Regions from separate parts of the Homo sapiens genome. Here region 1 is linked to region 2. The links come from fine-mapping of genetic effects on gene expression. A gene starts in region 2. The other region holds a variant in brackets. All regions are shown on one strand. Distances are from middle to middle. Region 1 overlaps P4HA1 (prolyl 4-hydroxylase subunit alpha 1). Region 2 holds the start of ANXA7 (annexin A7).

Region 1 (9,746 bases), 390 kb before region 2:
AAGGTAAAAGGCACAGAAAACCTATTTAATAATAGCTGAAAACTACCCAAGTCTGGGGAAGAGATAAGGGTATCCAACTCCAGGAAGTTCAAAAGTCCCCAAATAGATTCAACCAAAAAAAGTCCCCTCTGAAGCACATTTCAGTCAGATTGTCAAACATCAAAGACAAATAAAGAATTCTAGAAACAGCAAGATAGCTAGATTAACAAAGAAAAAAGATCCAAATAAGCACAATCAGAAATAACAAAGGTGACATTACAACTGACCCCAAAGAAATATAAAAAGTCCTCAGAGATTATTATGAACACCTCTATGCACACAAACTTTTATAAAAAACCTAGAAGAAATGGATAAATTCCTGGAAACACACAACCTCCCAAGACTGAAACAGAAAAAAACTGAAACCCTGAACAGACCAATAAGGAATTCTGAAATTGAAATTCAATTTTAATTAAAAACAAAAAAACAAAAAAACAACCTACTAACCAAAAAAAGCTCTGGACTGGATGGATTCACAGCTGAATTTTACCAGACATACAAAGAGCTAGTATCAATCCTACTGAAATTATTCCAAAAGATTGAGAACGAATCTTTCCTTAACTCATTTTATGAAGCCAGCATCATCATTCTGATACCAAAACTCATCACAGACATAATGAAAAAAGAAAACTTCAGGCTGATATTCCTGATGAACACAGACACAAAATACTCAAAAAAATACTAGAAAACAAAACCTAGCAGCACATCAAAAAGTTAATTTACTATAATCAATTAGGCTTTATTTGTGGGGTGCAAGGTTGGTTCAATAAATGTAATTCACCACATAAACAGAATTAAAAACCATATGATCATCTCTGCAAATGCAGAAAAAGCTTTCAAAAAAATTCAGCATCCTGGCCAGGCACAGTGGCTCACACCTGTAATTCCAGCACTTTGGGAGGCCAAAGTGGATGGATCACCTGAGGTCAGGAGTACGAGACCAGCCTGGCCAACATGGTAAAACCCTGTCTCTACTAAAAATATAAAAATTAGCTGGGCATGGTGGCAGGGGCCTGTAATCCCAGTTACACAGGAGGCTGAGGCAGGAGAACTGCATTAACCCAGGAGGTGGAGGTTGCAGTGAGCCAAGATCACACCACTGCACTCCAGCCTGGGCAAGAGAGTAAGACTACATCTCAAGAAAAAACAAACAAAAAAACCCAAAAATAACAGACACTGGCAAGGATGAAGAGAAAGGGGCATGCTCATACACTGCTGGTGGGAATGTAAATTAGTACAATCACTATGGAGAACAGTACAGAGGTTCCCTTAAAAACTAAAAATAGATCTACCATATGATCCAGCAATCCCAGTGCCAAGTATATATCCAAAAGAAAGGAAATTAGCATGATGAAGAGATATCCGCATTCCCATGTTTATTGCAGGACTATTCACAACAGCTAACATATGGAATCAACCTAAGTGTCCATCAACAGATGAATGGATAAAGAAAATGTGGTGCTTATATATAATGAAACACTATTCAGCCATAAGAAGAATGTAATCTTATCACATGGATGGAACTGGAGTTCATTATATTAGTAAAATAAGCCCAGCATAGACAAATATCACATGTTCTCACTCACATGTGGGATTTCTGCATTTCCAACTGAGGTACCTGGTTCATCTCATTGGGACTGGTTGGACAGTGGGTGCAGACCATAGAGAATGAGCCAAAGCAGGGCGGGGCATCGCCTCACCCAGGAAGCACAAGGAGTCAGGGAATTTCCCTTTCCTAGCAAAGGGAAGCCATGACAGACTGTACCTGGAAAAACCGGACAATCCTGCCCACATACTGCGCTTTTCCCACAGTCTTAGCAACTGGCAGACCAGGAGATTCTTTCCTGTGCCTGGCTCAGTGGGTCCCATGCCCATGGAGCCTTGCTCACTGCTAGTGCAGCAGTCTGAGATGGACCTGAGAGGTTGCAGCCTGGCTGGAGGAGGGGTGTCCACCATTGCTGAGGCTTGATTAGGTAAACAAAATGGCCAGAAAGCTCAAACTGGGCGGAGCCCACCACAGCTCAGCAAGGCCTACTGCCTCTGTAGACTCCACCTCTGTGGGCAGGGCATAGCTGAACAAAAGCCAGCAGACAACTTCTGCAGACTTAAACGTCCCTGTCTGACAGCTCTGAAGAGAGCAGTGGTTCTCCCAGGATGGCATTTGAGCTCTGAGAACCAAAGACTGCCTCCTCAAGAGGGTCCCTGACCCCCGTGTAGCCTAACTGGGGGAAACCTCCCAGTAGGGGCCGACAGACACCTCATACAGGCGGGTGCCCCTCTGGGATGAAGCTTCCAGAGGAAGGATCAGGCAGCAATATTTGCTGTTCTGCATCCTCTGCTGGTGATACCCAGGCAAACAGCGTCTGGAATGGACCTCCAGCAAACTCCAACAGACCTGCAGCTGAGGGACCTGACTGTTAGAAGGAAAACTAACAGAAAGGAATAGCATCAACATCAACAAAAAGGTCATCTACACCAAAACCCCATCTGTAGGTCACCAACATCGAAGGCCAAAGGTAGACAAAACCACAAAGATGGGGAGAAACCAGAGCAGAAAAGCTGAAACTTCTAAAGATCAGAGCACCTCCTCTCCTCCAAAGGACTGCAGCTCCTCACAAGCAACAGAACAAAGCTGGACAGAGAATGACTTTGATGAGCTGACAGAAGTAGGCTTCAGAAGGTCGGTAATAACAAACCTCCCAGCTAAAGAAGCATGTTCTAAGCCATCGCAAGGAAGCTAAAACCCTTGAAAAAAGGTTAGACGAATGGCTAACTAGAACAAACAGTGTAGAGAAGACCTTGAATGACCTGATGGAGCTGAAAACCATGGCATAAGAACGTCATGGTGCATGCACAAGCTTCGGTAGCCGATTTGATCAAGTGGAACAAAGGGTATCAGTGATTGAAGATGGAATTAATGAAATAAAGCAAGAAGACAAGTTTAGAGAAAAATGAGTAGAAAGAAACAAATAAAGCCTCCAAGAAATATGGGACTATCTAAAAAGACCAAATCTATGTTTGATTGGTGTACACCTGAAAGTGACGGGGAGAATGGAAACAGGCTGAAAAACACTATTCAGGAAATTATCCAGGAGAATTTCCCCAACCTAGCAAGGCAGGCCAACAGTCAAATTCAGAAATACAGAGAACACCACAAAGATACTTCTCGAGAAGAGCAACCACAAGACACGTAATTGTCAGATTCACCAAGGCTGAAATGAAGGAAAAAATCTTAAGGGCAGCCAGAGAGAAAGGTCGGGTTACCCACAAAGGGAGGCCCATCAGACTAACAGTGGATCTCTCTGCAGAAACCCTACAAGCAAGAAGAGAGTGGGGGCCAATATTCAACATTCTTAAAAAAAAGAATTTTCAACCCAGAATTTCATATCCAGCCAAACTAAGCTTTCTAAATAAAGGAGAAATAAAATCCTTTGCAGACAAGCAAATGCTGAGAGATTTTGTCACCACCAGGCCTGTCTTACAAGAGCTCCTGAAGGAAGCACTAAACATGGAAAGGAACAACTGGTACCAGCCACTGCAAAAACATGCCAAATTATAAAGACCATCGATGCTATGAAGAAACCGCATCAATTAACGAGCAAAATAACCAGCGAACATCATAATGACAGGATCAAATTCACATATAACAATATTAGCCTTAAATGTAAATGGGCTAAATGTCCCAATGAAAAGGCACAGACTGGCAAATTGGATAAAGAGTCAAGACCCATCAGGAGACACATCTCATGTGCAGAGACACACATAGGCTCAAAATAAAGGGATGGAGGAAGATCTACGAAGCAAATGGAAAGAAAAAAAAAAAAAAAAGCAGCGGCTGCAATCCTAGTCTCTGATCAAACAGACTTTAAACCAACACAGATCAAAAGAGACAAAGAAGGCCATTACGTAATGGTATAGGGATCAATTCAACAAGAAGTGCTAACTATTCTAAATATATATGCACCCAATACAGGGGCACCCAGATTCATAAGGCAAGTCCTTAGAGTCCTAAAAAGAGACTTAGACTCTCACACAATAATAATGAGAGACTTTAACACTCCACTGTCAATATGAGATCAACAAGACAGAAGGTTAACAAGAATATCCAGGACTGGAACTCAGCTCTGCACTAAGCAGACCATTATAATAGACATCTACAGAACTCTGTCCACCCCAAATCAACAGAATATACATTCTTCTCAGCACCACATCACACTTATTCTAAAACTGACCACATAATTGGAAGTAAAGCACTCCTCAGCAAATGTAAAAGAACAGAAATCACAACAAACTGTCTCTCAGACCACAGTGCAATCAAATTAGAACTCAGGATTAAGAAACTCACTCAAAACCACACAACTACATGGAAACTGAACAACCTGCTCCTGAATGACTACTGGGTAAATAACGAAATGAAGGCAGAAATAAACATGTTCTTTGAAACCAATGAGAACAAAGACACAACGTAC[C/A]AGAATCTCTGGGACACATTTAAAGCAGTGTAGAGGAAAATTTATAGCACTAAATGCCCACAAGAGAAAGCAAGAAAGACCTAAAATCGACACCCTAACATCACAATTAAAAGAACAAGAGAAGCAAGAGCAAACAAATTCAAAAGCTAGCAGAAGGCAAGAAATAACTCAGATCAAAGCAGAACTGAAAGAGATACAGACATAAAAAACCCTTCAAAAAATCAATGAATCCAGGAGCTGGTTTTTTGAAAAGATCAACAAAATTGATAGACAGCTAGCAAGACTAATAAAGAAGAAAAGAGAGAATAATCAAATAGACACAGTAAAAAATGATAAAGGGGATATCACCACAGATCCCACAGAAATACAAACTACCATCAGAGAATACTATAAACACCTCTATGCAAATAAACTAGAAAATCTAGAAGAAATGGATAAATTCCTGGACACATACACCCAAGACCAAACCAGGAAGAAGTTGAATCTCTGAATAGAAAAATAACAGACTCTGAAATTGAGGCAATAACAGCCTACCAACTAAAAAAAGTTCAGGACCAGATGGATTCACAGCCGAATTCTATCAGAGGTACTAAGAGGAGCTGGTACCATTCCTTCTGAAACTATTCCAATCAACAGAAAAAGAGGGAATCCTCCCTAACTCATTTTATGAGGCCAGTATCATCCTGATACCAAAGCCTGGCAGAGACACAACAAAAAAAGAGAATTTTAGGCCAATATCGCTGATGAACATCGACGCAAAAATCCAACCGAATCCAGCAGCACATCAAAAAGCTTATCCACCACAATCAAGTCAGCTTCATCCCTGGGATGCAAGGCTGGTTCAACATACACAAATCAATAAACGTAATCCATCACATAAACAGAACCAATGACAAAAACCACATGATTATCTCAATAGATGCAGAAAAGGCCTTTGACAAAATTCAACAGCCCTTCATGCTGAAAATGCGGTAAACTAGGTATTGATGGAACATATCTCAAAATAATAAGAGCTATTTATGACAAACCCACAGCCAATATCATACTGAATGGGCAAAAACTGGAAGCACTGTTTGAAATCCGGCACAAGACAAGGATACCCTCCCTCACCACTCCTATTCAACATAGTGTTGGAAGTTCTGGCCAGGGCAATAAGGCAAGAGAAAGAAATAAAGGGTATTCAATTAGGAAAACAGGAAGTCAAATTGTCCCTGTTTGCAGATGACATGATTGTATATTTAGAAAACCCCATTGTCTCAGCCCAAAATCTCCTTAAGCTGATAAGCAACTTCAGCAAAGTCTCAGGATACAAAATCAATGTGCAAAAATCACAAGCATTCCTATATACCAATAACAGACAGAGAGCCAAATCATGAGTGAACTCCCATTCACAATTGCTACAAAGAGAATAAAATACCTAGGAATCCAACTTACAAGGGATGTGAAGAACCTCTTCAAGGAGAACTACAAACCACTGCTCAACGAAATAAAAGAGGACACAAATGGAAGAACATTCCATGCTCATGGATAGGAAGAATCAATATCGTGAAAATGGCCATACTGCCCAAGGTAATTTACAGATTCAATGCCATCCCCATCAAGCTACCAATGACTTTCTTCACAGAATTGGAAAAATCTACTTTAAAGTTCATATGGAACCAAAAAAGAGCCCACATAGCCAAGACAATCCTAAGCCAAAAGAACAAAGCTGGAGGCATCATGCTACCTGACTTCAAACTATACTACAAGGCTACAGTAACCAAAATAGCATAGTACTGGTACCAAAACAGAGACATAGACCAATAGAACAGAACAGAGGCCTCAGAAATAACAACACACATCTACAACCATCTGATCTTTGACGAACCTGACAAAAACAAGAAATGGGGAAAGGATTCCCTATTTAATAAACGGTGCTGGGAAAACTGGCTAGCCATATGTAGAAAGCTGAAACTGGATCCCTTCCTTACACTTTATATAACAATTAATTCAAGATGGATTAAAGACTTAAATGTTAGACCTAAAACCATAAAAACCCTAGAAGAAAACCTAGGCAATACCATTCAGGACATAGGCATGGGCAAGGACTTCATGACTAAAACACCAAAAGCAATGGCTACAAAAGCCAAAATATACAAGTGGGATCTAATTAAACTAAAGAGCTTCTGCATGGCAAAAGAAACTACCATCAGAGTGAACAGGCAACCTACAGAATGGGAGAAAATTTTTGCAATCTACCCATCTGACAAATGGCTGATATCCAGATCTACAAAGAACTTAAATTTACAAGAAAAAAACAACCCCATCAAAAAGTGGGCAAAGGATATGAACAGACACTTCTCAAAAGAAGACATTTATGCAGCCAACAGGCACATGAAAAAATGCTCATCATCACTGGTCATAAGAGAAATGCGAAGCAAAACCACAATGAGATACCATCTCATGCCAGTTAGAATGGCAATCATTAAAAAGTGAGGAAACAACAGATGCTGGAGAGGATGTGGAGAAATAGGAATGCTTTTACACTGTTGGTGGGAGTGTAAATTAGTTCAGCCATTGTGGAAGACAGTGTGGTGATTTCTCAAGGATCCAGAAGTAGAAATACCATTTGACCCAGCAATCCCATTACTGGGTAAATACCCAAAGGATTATAAATCATGCTACTATAAAGACACATATACACGTATGTTTACTGTGGCACTATTCACAATAGCAAAGACTTGGAACCAACCCAAATGTCCATCAATAATAGACTGGATTAAGAAAATGTGGCACATGTACACCATGGAATACCATGCAGCCATAAAAAAGGATGAGTTCATGTCCTTTGCAGGGACATGGATGAAGCTGGAAACCATCATTCTCAGCAAACTCTCACAAGGACAGAAAACCAAACACCACATGTTCTCACTCATAGGTGGAAATTGAACAATGAGAACACTTGGACACAGGGCAGGGAACATCACACACCGGGGCCTGTCGGAGGGTGGGGGGCTGGGGGAGGAATAGCATTAGGAGAAATACCTAATGTAAATGATGAGTTGATGGGTGCAGCAAACCAACATGGCACATGTATACCTATGTAACAAACCTGCACGTTGTGCACATGTACCCTAGAACTTAAAGTATAAAAAAAAAAAAAGGGAAGGAAGGAAGGAAAGAAGGGAGTCAGGGAGGGGGAGGGGGGAGGGAGAGAGGAAGGAAGGAAGTAAAGAAATAAAGAGGGTGGGAGGGAGGAAGAGAGAGAAGAAAGAAAGGAAAGGAGGGAAGGATGGATGCAGGGAGGGAGGGAAGGGAAGGAAGGAAGGAAGGAAGCAAGCAAACATGGAAGGAAGGAAATATGGAAGGAAGGAAGGGAGAGAGAGAGGAAGGAAGGGAGGGAGAGAGGAGGGGAGGGAGGGAGAGAGGGAGGGAGGGAGGGACAGAGGGAGGGAGGGAAGAATCAGAAATCATAGCCAGTGAAACCCAGGAAAACCATTAGGCAGGAATCAGGACGATACCTTATTCAGGTTTGCATTCCCAACATTTAGCACCACATGTATCAAAAATGTTGTTGGATGAATACTGAACAACAGTCAAACACTGAATAAACCTGGCAGGTGTGCATCACAGGGGAGGGCACAGTGTTACTGGACTCTGAGTGGGTTGCTGTTTTTCATGCCAAGTCATGATAGGATTCAGTGTGTTGGGTGAACACAGTTTTATGAATCTCACTTTTAAAAAACTGCAAGCGTTATAAATAAAAGCTTTCATAATTTTGAGATAGGAAAAAAAAACAGAAGAAAAGACCACGTGTTCTGACAAAGACGGAGTAGGATGGCATCAAACCGTGTCACTGTAAAACACACACACACACACACACACACACACACACACACACAAAATACATTTTTAAAACTTAATTAGAAAAAGGGAATTAACTGTCTTTAAGAATACATTTTGGTCTTCTGATAAATTAACAGTTTATTTATTTATTTATTTCTGAAACAGAGTTTTGCTCTCGTTGCCCAGGCTGGAGTGCAATGGCGCAATCTCAGCTCACCGCAACCTCCACCTCCTGGGTTCAAGCAATTCTCCTACCTCAGCCTGCCGAGTAGCTGGAATTACAGTCATGTGCCACCACGCCCAGCTAATTTTTTTGTATTTTTTAGTAGAGACGGGGTTTCTCCATGTTGGTCAGGCTGGTCTCGAACTCCTGACTTCAGGTGATCCACCTGGCTCGGCCTCCCAAAATGCTGGGATTACAGGCATGAGCCACCAGACCCGGACAACAGTTTATTATTTAAAGTTGAAAAGAGGCCAGACACAGTGGCTCATGCCTGTAATCCCAACACTTTGGGAGGCCAAGGCAGGCAGATCACTTGAGGCCAGGAGTTCAAGACCAGCCTGGCCAACATGGTGAAACCCCATCTCTACTAAAAATACAAAAATTAGCTAGCCGTGGCGGCATGTGCCTGTGGTCCCAGCTACCTGGGAGGCTGAGGCAGGAGAATCACTTGAGCCCAGGAAGCAGAGGTCGCACTGATCCAAGATTGCACCACTGCACTCCAGTGAGACTGTCTCAAAAAGAAAAAGAAAGGTTGAAAAGAAGCAAAAGTATCACCTTTCTAATGAATTTATGAGCTGCATATTGACTGCATCTGTCTTAGAATTTTGCAACCAGGCCAGGCACAGTGCCTCACGCCTGTGTAATCCCAGCACTTTGGGAGGCCAAGGCAGGTGGATCACTTGAGGTCAGGAGTTCAAGAGCAGCCTGGCCAACATGGTGAAACCCCGTCTCTACTAAAAATACAAAATTAGCTCAGTGTGGTGGCGCATGCCTGTAATCCCAGCTACTTGGGAGGCTGAGGCAGGAGAATCGCTTGAACCAGGAGACAGGGGTTGTAGTGAGTCGAGATCATGTCACTGCACTCCAGCTTGGGCCACAGAGCCAGACTCAGACTCCATCTCAAAAAAAAAAAAAAAAAAAAAATTGCAACCAGAAAGGCTAAAATAAAGGCATTGGTTTTTTTAGTGCACATTTTGATAACTTCAAAAAAAAAATCTAATACAGAAAAGGGAACTCAAATATTTTAAAAAGTATTTTTCTACAGGAAAAGACTAAGGAATAGTAAATAACGCTGACAAAGGGGAAGACTAAGCTGTTTCTTTTCTCTGGTTTATAGGCCTATGCTTAGTTTTTTTTTTTTACTATTGAAACCAAGTGAGATTATTATACATGGATTTTATGTTTATTCC
Region 2 (9,746 bases):
AAAGGGTCAGGGTCAAAATAAAGGAAAAAAAAATCTGAAAATAATTTATGAGATAAATTAATAGTAATTTGAAAGGCAATATGCAGTTACAGTACCAAAGACATCATAAGCAATTTAAATTTCTAAGTTTCAAGAAATTGTTCCAGTGACAAGACCTATATCTAAATTCTTTAGCTACTATCTTAAATCTTACCTTTAAGAGCCTGGAGGAATTATGTCAACAAAAATGAAAATAAGGCAAAGATTATCTGTATATAATAAAAATTAAAGCTATTTTAAGAAAGTGAATTTTGGTACATTTTGAAAAATAATTATATAAAAGACTAGAATGCAATTCCATTTCCAGGAATGTACCTTATAGAAATACTTGCACAAGGACAAAATTATATATGTACAAGGCTATTCACTGCAGCATTTTTGTAATAGGAAAAGGTTAAAAACCATGTGAATGTCCATCAATAAGGGACAGGTGTCATCCCAGGGATGCTGGAATGATTTAACATATGCAAGTCAATAAATGTGATGTATCACATAAACAGAATTAAAAACAAAAACCATATGATCTCAACAGATGCAGAAAAAGCATTCAACAAAATCCAGCATCCTTTACAATAAAGAACTCAACAAATGAGGCATAGAAAGGACCTAACTCAAAATAATAAAAGCCATATATGACGACAAAGCCAACATCATACTGAATGGGGAAAAGTTGAAAGCATTCCCCCTGAGAACAGGAACAAGACAAGGACATCCACTTTCACCACTCCTATTCGACATAGTTCTGGAAGTATTAGCCAGAGGGAAAGTAGGGGAAAGCAATAAAGTGTATCCAAATTGGAAAAGAGGAAGTCAAACTATCACTGTTTGCAGATATTATGACTATATACCAAGGAAATCCTAAAGACTCCAACAGACTCTTAGATTTGATAAATGAAATCGGTAAAGTCTCAGGTTACAAAATCAATGTACACAAATCAGTAGCACTGCTATATACCAAAAACGTCCAAGCTGAGAATCAAATCAAGAGCTCAATCCCTTTTATAATAGCTGCAAAAATAAAAAATAAATAGAATACCTAGGAATATGCTTCACCAAGGAGATGACAGATCTCTACAAGGAGAACTACAAAATACTGCTGAAAGAAATCACAGATGACATAAATGGAAACTCATCCCATGCTCATGGATTGAAAGAATCAATATTGTGAAAATGACCATACTGCCCAAAGCAATCTACAGATTCAATGCGATTCCCATCAAAATACCAAGATCATTTTTCACAGAATTAGAAAAAACAATCCTAAAATTAATATGGAACAAAAAACAGCCTGAATAGCCAAAGCAATTCTAAGCAAAAAGACAAATCTGGAGACATCACATTACCAGACTTCAAATACACTACAAGCCTATAGCTACCACAACAGCATGGTACTGGTTTAAAAGTAGGCACATAGACCAATGGAACAAAATAGAGAACTCAGAAATAAAGCCAAATACATACAGCCAACTGCTCTTTGACAAAGCACACAAAAACAAAAATTGGGGAATGGACATCCTATTCAATAAATGATGCTGGGAAAACTGGCAAGCCACATGAAGAATGAAACTGGATCCCTAACTATCATCCAATGCAAAAATCAACTCAAGTTGATAAAAGATTTAAATATAAGACCTGAAACTATAAAAATTCTAGAACATTGGAAACAGTCTTCTAAACACTGGCCTAGGCAAAAAATTCATGACTAAGACCCCAAAAACAAACGCAACAAAAACAAAAATAAATAGATGGGACCTAATTAAACTAAAAAGCTTCGGCACAGCAAAACAAATAATCAACAGAGTAAACAGACCACCCACAGAATGGGAGAAAATATTTGCAAACTATGCATCCAACAAAGGACTAGTATCCAGAATCTACAAGGAACTCAAATCACAAAGAAAAAAAAACAATTGCATTAAAAACTGAGCAAAGGACATGAATAGACATTTCTCAAAAGATACACAAATGGCCAAAAAACATGAAATAATCATTAATAATTCAACATCATTAATCATCAGGGAAATGCAAATTAACCACAATGAGATACCACCGTGCTCCTACAGGAATGGTTATTCTTAAAAAGTCAAAAAATGGGCCGGGCGCGGTAGCCCCCATCTGTAATCCCAGCACTTTGGGAGGCCCAGACGGGCGATCACCTGAGGTTGGGAGTTTGAAACCAGCCTGACCAACATGGAGAAACCCGTCTCTACCAAAAATAACAAAATTAGCTGGGCATGGTGGCGTGTGACTGTAATCCCAGCTACTTGGGAGGCTGAGTCAGGAGAATTGCTTGAATCCGGGAGGCGGAGGTTGGGGTGAGCTGAGATCACGCCATTGCACTCCAGCCTGGCAACGAGAGCGAGACTCCATCTCAAAAAAAAAAAAAAAAAAAGTCAAAAAACAATAGATGTTGGTGTGGATGTGGGGAAAAGAGACCGCTTATTACACTACTATACAGCCTCTACAGAAAACAGTATGGAGACTCCTTGAAGAGCTAAAAAAGATCTACCATTCAATCCAGAAATTCCACTGCTGGGTATCTACCCAAAGGAAAGAAAGTCATTATATGAAAAAGACTTTTGCACATGTATATTTATAGCAGCACAACTCACAACTGCAAAGATGTGGAACCAATCTAAGTGCCCATCAACTGAGTGGATAAAGAAAATGTGGTATATATAAACCATGGAATACTACTCAGCCATTAAAAGGAACAAAATAATGTCTTTTGCAGCAACTTGGATGAAGCTGGAGGCCATTTTTCTAAGTGAAGTAATACAGGGGTGGAAAACCAAAAGCCGTATGTTCTCACTGTGTAAGTGGAAGCTAAGCTATGAGTATGCAAAGACATAGGTATGAAGTGATATAATGGACTTTAGAGACTCAGAAAGGGGAGGGTGAAAGGGGGCTAGGAATCAAAAACTACACATTAGGTACAATGTACATTACTTGGGTGACTAAAATCTCAGAATTCACCACCATATAATTCATCCATGTAACAAAAAACCACTTGTACTCCAAAAGCTGTTGAAATTTTATCTTTTTTTTTGGAGATGGAGTCTTGCTCTATCATCCAGGCTGGAGTGCAGTGGTGTGATCTCCACTCATTGCAACCTCCACCTCCCAGGTTCAAGCGATTCTCCTGTCTCAGCCTCCCGTGTAGCTGGGACGTGCCACCGCACCCGGCTAAATTTTGTATTTTTAGTACAGACAGGGTTTCATCATGTTGGCCAGGCTAGTCTCGAACTCCTGACCTCAGGTGATCCACCCACCTCGGCCTCCCAAAGTGCTGGGATTACAGGCGTGAGCCACTGTGCGGGGCCATTGCTTAAATTTTTAAAAAGGAGGGACAGGTGAAACAGATTATGGATAGCCATACAAGGAGGTGTTATGTGGTTATTAAAAATGAGGCAGCTTTTTCTTTTACCCATATATGAAACCATCTATAACACGTATTAATGAAAAAAAAAAAAGGCAAAGTGAAAAACTGCATAGTGTGCTGCCATTATGTGTAAAAAATGCACTGATTTTGACTTATAGAATATCCCTGAAAGGACACTCAAGGAAGTAGAAAACAGTGACTGCTTCCTGGATGAAGAGCTGGGACACAATGGAGAAGACTATTTACCTTTCTTTTTTCTTTTTTTGAGATGGAGTCTCGCTCTGTTGCCAGGCTGGAGTGCAGTGGCACGATCTCAGCTTACTGCAACCTCCGCCTCCGGGGTTCAAGAGATTCTTGTGCCTCAACCTCCTGAGTAGCTGGGACTACAGGCGCCTGCCACCACGCCCGGCTAATTTTTGTATTTTTAGTAGAGACGGGGTTTCACCGTGTTAGTCAGGATGGTCTCGATCTCCTGACCTCGTGATCCTCCCGCCTAGGCCTCCCAAAGTGCTGGGATTACAGGCGACAGCCACTGCGCCCGGCCGAGACTTACTTTTCAATGTACTTTAGCCCTTTTAGAATTGTACATATATCATTTATTCAAGAGGCAGATTTTAAACGTTTTTGTAAAAAGCTAAATAACACCCAGAGTGACTCAAAAAATTTCTCAACTTTGCCCAAGTGAATAGTAAGTCTAGAGTTTTTTGGGTTTTTTTTTTTTTTGTGACAGAGTTTCTCTCTGCCGCCCAGGCTGGAGTGCAGTGGCGATCTTGGCTCACTGCAACCTCTGCCTCCCGGGTTCAAGCGACTCTCCTGCCTCAGCCTCCAGAGTAGCTGGGATTACAGGCGCGCGCCACCACGCCCAGCTAATTTTTGTATTTTTAAGTAGAGACGGGGTTTCACCGTGTTGGTCAAGCTGGTCTCAAACTCCTCCTGACCTCGTGAATCTCTCGCCTCGGCCTCCCAAAGTGCTAGGATTACAGGAGTGAGCCACCGCGCTCGGGCTTTTTTTTTTTTTTTTTTAAACATTCTCTGTTAGCAATCACTTTTAAAAGACTAGAAAATCATTTTTGGTTTTCCAAACCACCTCCACCCAGTGAGTCAGTTAGTAAAAGGGCTGGGTCTCACCGTTTCTCATTGATGGCATGAAGCCCAGGAACCCAAGAGGCAGCTGTTGCAAATTTATGGGGGAAAAAATACACGAAACAGGAAGGGTGACTGAAGATACGCGCAACAGCGAATACAATTTTGCAAAACCGGCTTCTAGGTATGGTAGGATCATTTAAATCCGTCAGTGATGTGGAGAAAGAACATGGAGGCATGGCTAGTCCTCTGCACGGACAGGTAGGTAGCCAACCACCAGTGAGGACTGAAAGACAGTCCTCACTGAAAAGGACTGAAAGTTTGCAGTGGCCAAAATTATCTCTTTTACCTATTCAGTGCTTGAAACTCTTTCCTTGCCTGGAAGGTAACTCATTACACTCATCATCTAATTCGGACACATTTAGCAGATTAGCTGGCCATCAGCTGGCAAAAATCAGGGCGTTTACGGCAGTCGGAAGACAACAGCGTCATGTCTGTCACTTTACGGTGGACATCAGCCATCTACCTCTGCACCTTGGTTTCCTTGCGCAGTGTTTGCACAGGATGAGCTAATTTCAACACAGATTTGCTGCTGGTCGGGGAACAGCAATCAAATCTGGAATGCTATTCTAGAATAGCTTCCAAGAACTGTAAACGAGAACCAGTGTACGACCTTGGCCTGGCGCATTCTGTCCTACGGTTCACTAAACACAGTAAAAATTTCCCCAAGTTTCCCTAAATTCGCTGTGTCACCGGAAAGTACAGCCACTACCAGCCAGACGGCTTTCAGCACTGCCCGTGCGTTTCCCTACTCAGCCTCCCGCGAGGCAGCTGGGCCACGCTCCGGCCTCAGCCCCTCCACCTGCCCGAGGGCGGGGCGCCACTGGTCCCTGGGATTTCCAAACGGACGGAAGGGCTTCCCGTAAGCCAGGCCGGCCGCCTCACCCACGCCACCCCAACACACCCCGGCCGGCAGCCCGGCTACGAGACGCGCAAACCGAGTCGCCGCCATCCGGGAGGCCCACACTGCCCTCCAGCCGCGCCCCACTAGCACCGGGACAGCAGCGCCCAGAGCTGGCCGAGGGCAAGACCACCGAGGCAGACGAGGTGGGAAAGGGAGGGGGGCGCCGCTCCTCACCTGACCCCAGCAGCAGCGTCACAGCCCAACCCGGTCTCCCGCAAGATGGAGCCGGGGGCGGGCCCAGGGTGGGCGGGGCGTCTCGCGAGCCCGTTAGGATCGCGGCTGCAGCCGGGAACACCCCCGGAGCCGGAGAGGGCGCTGCGGGGAGCGGGCTGTCCCTCAGTCCCGCCCCTAGGCGCCACCTGAGGGAAAAAGACTCTCCCTTCGGGTGGCCCAGCGGATTTTTAATCACATTTATCTGTCGCAAGGACCCTGCACCAATCCCTTTTAAGGCTGCCTCAAGTCACCTAGGAAGTTGCAGCAGTCCTGGGGGTATCCGGGGCCCCTTCAGTGGCGGGCGGTAGAGAAGGGCTGAGACTGGGAGGCTGGTGCAGCCTCCCCGCCTCTGAAATACCGTCCTCCAGGTATTTTCTGGGGACAAAGACGGCGTTTTTTGTTAGCCTCCTGTGAAAGTAATATTTGTGGGAAATCTTAGTTGGAACTGTAGATGAACTAATCAAAATCACTCCCGAAAGGAGTTGTTAGGTGATTTTAGGCTCCCCTCGTGGCTACAGCATTGAACACACATTAGCATTAAACATTTGAGGCAATTACGAGGGCTCAGATCAATATTTTAAACTCGTTAAGGAATTTATATTACAGAGAAAACCAATCAGCTACCTTTTAGAGTGGTAAAAGGTAGCTTCTGGGTGTGGTCCCCCGAACAGCAGCATCACCTGGAAACGTGTTAGTAACGCAGATTATTGAACTCCACCTTAGACCTACTGAATCAAACTCCCCGGGTGGTGCCCAGCAACCTGTTTTAACAAGCCTTCCAGGTGGTTCTGATGCACACTAAAGTTTGCACATCTGATGCACATCAACTTACTTATTCCTCTACACACTTTTCTACCCAAAAGCTTCCTCATGGGGGTGGAATAGAGTGGATTACGATTTTAAATGGGAAGAGCAAGCAAAATATACGTGGCTTCCAAATAGGTGTGTGGAGTGAAAAGTATTTGAGGCAGGTCATTGCCTCATTTAACAATGGTAGACAAAATGCACAACTCTCTAGGTGACCAGCATTAATTCCCCGGCGCCCAACAGTCTGTCTACCTGGAAAATAACAGGACTTTCTGTCCTACCTACCCCAGAGACCTCCAGGATTTAAGCCTTCCCTGAGAAGCCTACTCTGTTCATTCTAGAGTTCCCTTTGTGAGCTCGTTCCAAACCCTCCCTCTGCCTTAAATACCACCATAACAGGGTATTTGCCAAACCTCTTATTTCCAGCCCACTTTCCTGAGCTGCAGGAATAGTCCAATAGTCTACTACGACATTTGCCATTTCATCCTTTCAATTCATCCTTTCTTCCTGGCATAAAAGGCGTTACAGGATCGGAGACCCTTTCCTCCTGCTACCTCTGCTTAGAAAGCACTGCTCATCTTTTAACAATTACTCATCTTAATTAGACTTGTTTTCAAGGTTGCTCATCTCCGTCTTGCTCCAATAAACTCTTCCTGATCTTCTTTTTTGTACTCAACTGGACCATTTTAATTTTTTAATTTTTTTGGAGACAGAGTCTTGCTCTGTCACCCAGGCTGGAGTGCTGTGGTGCGATCTAGGCTCACTGCAACCTCTGCCTCCGGGGTTCAAGCGATTCTCATGCCTCAGCCTCCCGTGTAGCTGGGAGGCATGTCACCACGCCCAGCTAATTTTTTTGTATTTTTAGTACAGATGGGGTTTCGCCATGTTGGCCAGGCTGGTCTCGAACTCCTGGCCTCAAGCGATCCACCTGCCTCAGCCTCCCAAAGTGCTGGATGTATTACAGGCATGAGCCACCATACCTGGTCAACATCTCTGAAGGCCATGGTATGTTCCAGAGTTCATGTGAAATAAGAGCCATCATGCTTCTAATGTGAACATCCCACTGTATCAGAGTCTGGTTTTTTTTTGTTTGTTTTTGTAGTTTTGAGACAGGGTCTCATTCTGTTGCCCAGGCTGGAGTGCAATGGCACAATCTCAGCTCATTGCAACCTCTGCTTCCCAGGTTCAACGAATTCTCCTGCCTCAGCCTCCCAAGTAGCTGGGATTACAGGCATCCGCCACCACGCCCAGCTTTTTTTTTTTTTTTTTTTTTTTTTTTTTTTGAGACAGAGTCTCACTCTGTTGCCCAGGCTGGATGGAATGCAGTGGCACGATCTCGGCTCACTGCAAGCTCTGCCTCCTGGGTTCACGCCATTCTCCTGCCTCAGCCTCCCGAGTAGCTGGGACTACAGGTGTCTACCACCACGCCTGGCTAATTTTTTGTATTTTTAGTAGAGACAGGGTTTCACTGTGTTAGCCAGGATGGTCTCGATCTCCTGACCTCATGACCCACCCGCCTCAGCCTCCCAAAGTGCTAGGATTACAGGCATGAGCCACCACGTCCGGCCTAAATTTTTATATTTTTAATACAGACGGTGATTTGCCATGTTGCCCAGGCGAACTCCTGACCTCAGGTGATCCACCCACCTCGGCCTCCCAAAGTGCTGGGATTATTACAGGTGTGAGCCACCACGCCTGGCCCAGAGTCTGGTATTTAAGTTCATATCCTTTTTGTTCCATTAGAATAGTAATTTTGTCCCTCAGGGACACCTGACAATGTGTGGAGACATCTTTGTTTGTCACAACTGAGGGGAGGTGGTGGGGTTACTAGCATCTAGTGGGTGAAAGCCAAGGATTCTAAACAAGGTACGTATCCTACAATGCCTACAGTCCCTACACAAAGAATTATTCAGCCCAAAAAGTCAATAGTGCTGAGGTTAAGAAACCCTGAGTCAGAGTGATCTTTCTAAAGAATAAATTGGGTCATGTAATTCCCGTGATTAAACTTTTTTAATAGCTTCCCACTGGAACCAGAATAAAATAAAATCCAAACTCCTGATGGTCTATTAAGCCCTAGATAATCTGGTCCCTGCCTACATCGCTCATCTAATCCCTTTTCACTTTTTTTTTTTTTTTTTTGAGACGGAGTCTTGCTCTGTCGCCCAGGCTGGAGTGCGGTGGTGCAATCTCAGCTCACTGCAAGCTTCGCCTCCCAGGTTCACACCATTCTCCTGGCTGAACCTCCCAAGTAGCTGGGACTAAAGGTGACTGCCACCACGCCCAGCTAATTTTTTTGTATTTTTAGTAGAGACGGGGTTTCACCATGTTAGCCAGGATGGTCTTGATCTCCTGACCTCGTGATCCACCTGCCTCGGCCTCCCAAAGTGCTGGGATTACAGGCGTGAGCCACGGCGCCTGGCCTTCACTTTCCTTAATCACTAACCTCTGAACACAGTGGCCTTCGGTCCAAACATACCAAGCTTGTGACCAAATGCACCAGATTCTCAGGACCTTGGCACTTGCTATTGCTTCTACTGGGAATGTTCTCCATGGTGTCATCTCAAATGTGGTCTCCTGGCTGGGTGAGTTGGCTCACACCTATAATCCTAGCACTTTGGGAGGCCCAAGGCAGGCAGATCACTGAAACCCAGGAGTTGGAGACCAGCCTGGGCAACATGGCGAGACCCCATCTCTACAAAAAACACAAAAATTAGTCAGGCATAGTAGTGTGCACTTGTAATCCATCTACTTAGGAGGCTCACAGGGGAGAATCACTTGAACCTGGGAGGCAGAGGCTGTAGTAAGCCAAGATCTCACTACTGCACTCCAGCCTGGGTGACAGAGCCTGACCCTATCTCAAAAAAACAAACAAAAAATGTCATCTCCTCAAGGTATTTCCTGAACATTAGTAGCTGCCACCAGCACAACCACCACTAGCAGCTATGCTCATTATTTAATTTTCCTTATACCACTTAAAAGCATCTGAAATTCTGGCCGGGCGCGGTGGCTCACGCCTGTAATCCCAGCACTTTGGGAGGCCGAGGCGGGCGGATCACGAGGTCAGGAGATCGAGACCATCCCGGCTAAAAACGGTGAAACCCCGTCTCTACTAAAAATACAAAAAATTAGCCGGGCGTAGTGGCGGGCGCCTGTAGTCCCAGCTACTTGGGAGGCTGAGGCAGGAGAATGGCGTGAACCCGGGAGGCGGAGCTTGCAATGAGCCGAGATCCCGCCACTGCACTCCAGCCTGGGCGACAG

Evidence for each region. PIP is the estimated chance that this variant, and not a neighbour inherited with it, causes the effect. A credible set is the group of variants that fine-mapping cannot tell apart.
Region 1: its variant is the best candidate, but not a certain one, in a credible set for the expression of ANXA7 in whole blood (INTERVAL, PIP 0.80).

The regions. Positions count from the first base shown.
Region 1 is chr10:73,019,958-73,029,703 of GRCh38, forward strand. All of the region lies in intron 10 of P4HA1 (prolyl 4-hydroxylase subunit alpha 1), which reads right to left. Among named protein-coding and RNA genes, the nearest start is that of PLA2G12B, 70 kb to the left of the region's middle. The variant C/A (reference allele first, on the strand shown) is at 4,509.
Region 2 is chr10:73,408,370-73,418,115 of GRCh38, forward strand. It overlaps ANXA7 (annexin A7), which reads right to left and starts at 5,689. Exons shown (of 13, transcript NM_001156.5): 1 at 5,643-5,689. RefSeq lists silencers at 2,162-2,369, 5,313-5,872 and enhancers at 4,703-4,822, 4,833-4,912.